Regions from separate parts of the Homo sapiens genome. Here region 1 is linked to region 2. The links come from fine-mapping of genetic effects on gene expression. A gene starts in region 2. The other region holds a variant in brackets. All regions are shown on one strand. Distances are between the middles of the regions.

What was found. PIP is the estimated chance that this variant, and not a neighbour inherited with it, causes the effect. A credible set is the group of variants that fine-mapping cannot tell apart.
Region 1: its variant is the best candidate, but not a certain one, in a credible set for the expression of VPS35 in monocytes (TOPMed, PIP 0.55).

The regions. Positions count from the first base shown.
Region 1 is chr16:46,846,665-46,849,684 of GRCh38, reverse strand. No RefSeq gene overlaps it. Among named protein-coding and RNA genes, the nearest start is that of C16orf87, 17 kb to the right of the region's middle. The variant G/A (reference allele first, on the strand shown) is at 1,377.
Region 2 is chr16:46,688,119-46,690,618 of GRCh38, reverse strand. It overlaps VPS35 (VPS35 retromer complex component), which reads left to right and starts at 1,441. Exons shown (of 17, transcript NM_018206.6): 1 at 1,441-1,488. The coding sequence starts at 1,486. ORC6 (origin recognition complex subunit 6) reads right to left here and starts at 960. Exons shown (of 7, transcript NM_014321.4): 1 at 849-960. The coding sequence starts at 913. RefSeq lists enhancers at 137-206, 257-336, 574-1,272, 1,273-1,970 and silencers at 677-976, 1,297-1,536, 1,687-1,736.

The sequences.
Region 1 (3,020 bases), 160 kb before region 2:
TGAAATGTAGTGTATTTGGCTATTCCAGCCATCCCTCCAACACCAATAAGGAAGACCCTACCTGCAAGGGGTACAGAAACAAGGGGCAGAGAGAGAAATGGGGCCCTGATGGCTCACATGAGTGCATAGATCCAGCTGTGCCTGAAGCCCATCAGATTCTTGGCTCTTTTGGTTATGTGAGCCAGGAAATACTCTTTTTGCTTAAGCCATTTTGAGTTGAGTTTTTATTTCACAAAATTTCTGATTCCTGATTTATATACTCTCTGAGTTTCATGTTCCTTAACTGTAAGATGGGGCTCATGATTCCACTTTGCAGGGTTTGAGAGAAAGAACGACAAGTAATATAAAGGACAAGCTGCAAAGTAGATGCCCAATAAATAGTAAATAGCATGAAAGGGAAAAGCAAAGGAGGCAAAGCAAGGTGTGGGACTCCTGGAGACTCCTCTGTGCCCAGGGCAGGCAGCAGGCTGAGTTCAGTGCTCAGCGAGGGTGGTGGCTGGCTTGGGCTGTCTAGAGTTACCCAGCTACAAAGGAGGCTGCCTCCTGAGCTGCTTTGAGCCTGTGGCTTTTCAACAATGAATGTGCCCACCCAGTGTGTTATTAGCTCTGTAGGAGGAGAAGAAAAGCACTCTTTCTAGCCAAAAATAAGGCTTCTCATACTCTTTATCTTCATCTGGACAGTTTTGGGGGTTTTGTTTTATTTATTTATTTATTTATTTATTTATTTATTTATTTATTTTATTTTTTTTCGAGATGAAGTCTTGCTCTGTTGCCCAGAATGGAGTGCAGTGGCATGATCATAGCTCACTGCAGCCTCGATGTGCATGCCCGACTAATTTTATTATATTTTGTAGAGACAAAGTCTCATTATGTTTCCCAGGCTGGTCTCAAATTCCTGGGCTCAAGCAATTCTCCTGCCTTGGCCTCACAAACTGTTAGGATTACAGATGTGAGCCCACTGCTCCCAGCTGGACAATTATTTGTATTCATTTTTGTTACTGTTGTTATTTAAAGATGATTCCTTTGTGCAAATATATAAAATTTGTAGAAAAAAAATTAAAAGAATAAACAAGCGATGACCACATTTGTAGCATTGTGATGATTCCCAAAGCTTCTGGTGAAAAAACAAACAAGAAAGAACACAAACCCCTCTAATTTATATAATTTATAACTCAGGATCTATTTTCTTTTTCTTTTTTTTTTTTGAGATGGAGTCTTGCTCTGTCGCCCAGGCTGGCATGCAGTGGCGCAATCTCGGCTCACTGCAACCTCTGCCTCCCAGGTTCAAGTGATTCTCCTGCCTCAGCCTCCCGAGTAGCTGGGATTACAGGCATGCACCAGCATGCCTGGCTAATTTTTGTATTTTTAGTAGAGAC[G/A]GGGTTTCACCATGTTGGCCAGGCTGGTCTCAAACTCCTGACCTCAGGTGATCCACCTGCCTCGGCCTCCCAAAGTGCTGGGATTACAGGTGTGAGCCACCACACCCGGCCTAGGATCTATTTTGTAAGATAAGTGGTTATGTTTATATTTTAAAGATTGCTAAGGCTCCTACTGTTCCTCTCCTCCCACTAAAAATGTAAAAGCCTTAAAAGGCTCATTGATAGGGGCTTTGTGTCCTGAATGTTAACAGTGACAGGTGTAGAGGTGGAGGCTACATCTCATTTCTCCCAATCTCTGGGGGAAGCTCAGGTCCTAATTACAAGAGAGAACAAAAAGTGGCTTTGAATATCCATTTTGGTTCATTCATCAAGTACTTATTATTAAAGAACCTCCTGCTAGGTCTAATTGCATAGTGTGAGATTAGAAGCACCTGCAGTCACTTTAATAGCAAGCATGAAAGATCTTGAGCAAAGTTAGAAACAGGATCAAAAACCAGTGAAAAGTGGACTCTTTGGCACCCAACCTGGTTCTTTCTTTCTGTCTTCAGGTCAAGGACAGATGACCTACACAGATCCTTCTCATTTTTCTCCAGGTCAGTGGGACCCCAAAGGCCCATCTCTCTGTCACTTCCTCTATGGACCTCTCCCCAGCATGCACTGATGGAATTATTGTTTCATTTGAGTACCCATGAAAGCCGGCATCCAAGACGATCCCTACTTCCTGGGATACATGCCCTTATTTAGTCCCCTCCCACACTGACTGGGGTGACCTGTGTAACTAATAGGATATTGCAAAAATGACAGAGTGTGAGTTTTGAAGTTCAGTTATAAAAGATGTTGTGGATTCCCTCCCGTTCTCTGATGGAAAATGTGCCCTGTAGAAGAACAGTTGCTATGTTAAAAGGATACTTAAGCAGTCCTATGGGGAAGCCCACGCTCTAAGTAACTGAGGCCACCTGACCTCAGCCAGTGTAGTGGTTTTAAAAGATGTCCACACATTCTTTGACGTGTCTCCCTTTAAGAAGTGTAGTTTAAACCACGCGCCTGTAATCCCAGCACTTTGGGAGGCTTAGGCACGTGGATTGCTTGAGCTTGAGTTCGAGACCAGTCTGGGCAACATGGCGAGAGCCCATCTCTACCAAAACCCAGCCAACCAAACAAAAAACAAAAATCAGCTGGGCATGGTGTCTCGGGCCTGTGGTCTCAGCTGGAGGGATGGGGTTGGGGCGGGGGCTGAGGTGGGAGGATCACTTGAGCCTGGGAGATTAAGGCTGCAGTGAGCTGAGATCATGTCACTGCACTCCAGCCATGGCAACAGAGTGAAATCCAGTCTCAAAAAAAAAAAAAAAAAAAAAGCCGGGCATGGCGGCTCACGCCTGTAATCCCAGAGGCCGTGGGGCGGGGGCGGGGGGGGGTGTGGATCACCTGAGGTCAAGAGTTCGAGACCAGCCTGGCCAACATGGTGAAACCCCGTCTCTACTAAAAATACAATAATTATCCAGGTGTGGTGGCAGGCACCTGTAATCCCAGTTACTCAGGAGGTTGAGACAGGAGAATCACTTGAACCTGTGAGGCAGAGGTTGCAGTGAGCTGAGACCGTGCCATTGCACTCCAGCCTGGGCGAAAGAGCAAGACTCCGTCTCA
Region 2 (2,500 bases):
ACCTTGGGGACTTGCAAATTACTGGGTCCCAGGCCGAGTTACTGATCAGCAGGCTTGAGGTGGGACCCAAGAATTTGTATTTCTAACAAGTGACAAGATGATATGGCTGTTGCTGGTCCAGGAACCACATTTTGAGAACCACTGTTCTAAATGACTACCGAGTCCTGCAGGTTTGTCTTCAAATCTTTTAAGTGCTGTTTTCCTTGCCTTCCCTCGCCTGACTGCTCCACGTTTTAGCTACAATGGCTTTATTTCGAACCCCGGATCCCGCTTCCCATCTCAACGCTTTTACAGGAGCTGTCGCCCCTGCCTGGGCTGCTCTTGCCATATCTTTCCTCGCCTAGCATCTGCCATCAATCCGGCCTCAGCGGGAACGGCGCCTGCTTTTCCGAGTTTTGTTTGTTTCTTTGTGTTAAAGGCAGCCGCTAGGCCGCGCTCCACCCCAAGCCCAGTGGCTCAGGAGCATTGCCCGGTTAAGGTCTACACAGTCCTCGCCCTTACAGACAGCGGGGTCTGCGCCTCGTTGTCGGGTTCCCCGCTATAAACCCGACTGCAGTAGGCGTTGGCGGAATGAACGGAAAGTTCTCCCTGGCTCATTTTTCTACCCACGGACAGGGCTGGCTGTTCCCAGGGACGTGTGCCATCGCCGTTTGCTATCGCCCTTCTTGCCATCTCATTCAAGCTCACGGCCGAGAAGTTTTTCTTGAAGTAGGCCCTAAACCCCGCCCGGCCCCAGCGCTCCCCGTCACTCCCCCGCCGCCCGTCGCCTGGGAAGGGCGCGGGCCTCACCTGAGGGCCCAGGGCCGCGAGGCGGAAGCCCAGCCCTGGTCTTGCGCGGCCGAACTCACCTCAGCATGTCGGGCTCGGCGAGGCCCAGGCGCGGGGCTAGGCGCCCGATCAGCTCCGACCCCATGGCGCCGGCACTAAAGCGAACAATTCCCGTGAACGCCGCGGGTCAACGAAACCCGCGCGCAAAGGCTGCACCGGCCAGTGAGAGCCAGGCCCCACCCCCGGCGCATCTGGATTGGTTAGGACAGGACGTTGAGACCGTCCCACAAACCAATCAGGGTCTTCCTTTTGCGCATGCGCATCAATAGCGCAATCGCCAACGCAGATGCGGTGAACGTGGACTTGTCGGCTCCCCCTCCTTCCATTCCTTCTTGACAAACTCATCACACACTGCCTTTCCCTCCTGTTGTCTCCTGCCTGCCGCCGGGCGATCCCCACTGCCCTGCACTGCTCCGCCCACTCTCGCACGCTGTGGTGAGATTGGCTGGCGCTCAGGTCCGTCCATCTAGCGTTAAGTGACAGGGCCAATAAGCACGCGAGACTCGGGTTCCTAGAAGTAGGCCAATCAATGAGCCGCCTGTAGGGCCCGGGGGCGGGGCTAGAGAGGGCGGGGCTTGGAGGGGCCGCAGCGTCACATGACCGCGGGAGGCTACGCGCGGGGCGGGTGCTGCTTGCTGCAGGCTCTGGGGAGTCGCCATGGTGAGTGCTGAGGGGGCAGTGGCACCTGGGTCGACCCTCCTTGTAGCCCCTGCTCTCTCCCACCGCCCCGCACTCCAGCGAGTGGAGAAGGGGCCCCACAGACCGTTCGGGATTAAGACCAGCCCGATTTGGCCTGCGGGATAGGGGACAGCAGGAGGAAGGCCGCGGGCAGGCTGATCCGGGCCGGGGTGGGCGGCGGCTCTTGGCTGCGGCCGTTGCTGAGAGACGGGGCGGCCTCTCTGTGGGGTTGACTTGGCATGTAGGCTTTGGGGTCCATGAAGGCCTGCGGCCTCCTTTAAGTGGAATCGGTCACCTGCCTACCACGAGGGGACCGGTAGTCCTAGGTCTGAGCGTCTGGCCCCCGGGGCGCGTGGAGGCCCTGAGACTCGGAGGTGGCGCCGGGACCCGCCCAGATGTTGCGTTTCTACCTTTGTGCCTAGTTGTGCTCGGCCGTCCCCACGCCCTCCTGGAGGGGTCGCAGTGATTCCTTGGCCTTTCTTGGCCTCATACCCGCCTTCGGCTGCAGTGTTTGTCAGCGAGTTCTGGGGACCTGCTTACATGAATTTCCTGGAAGGACTCAGGCTGTCTTCTAATCCTGACGGTCGCAAAGGAGACTGATTGTTTACTTTAGCATTTGTGCATTGGGCGCACCTTGCCTCTTTTGTCTCGCCATTGATAAAATCCAAGTATTTGACTTGCTGGAAGCAGTACTTCTCCTTAGGGCCCGTCTATGACGGCAGCAAATCGTGGTGTGGCTGTTGGCCGGTAAACTTGAACTTCCTCAAAATGTGAATCTTTGTGTCTGGTTCCCACAAAGGCAAGTTGTCACTTGCATTTTATTAGCGTTTAACATAGCCTGCACTGTGTAAATAAATTTTTTGAGTATATACTGTATGTCCGCTTTAATTACCTTACTCACTCTGTGTAGATAGGCTTCTGTAAATCTGTAAGCCTGGAAACAGATTTCACTTTAAATGTCTTAATGCCAGAAAGGATTAAGTGTTTTACAAAT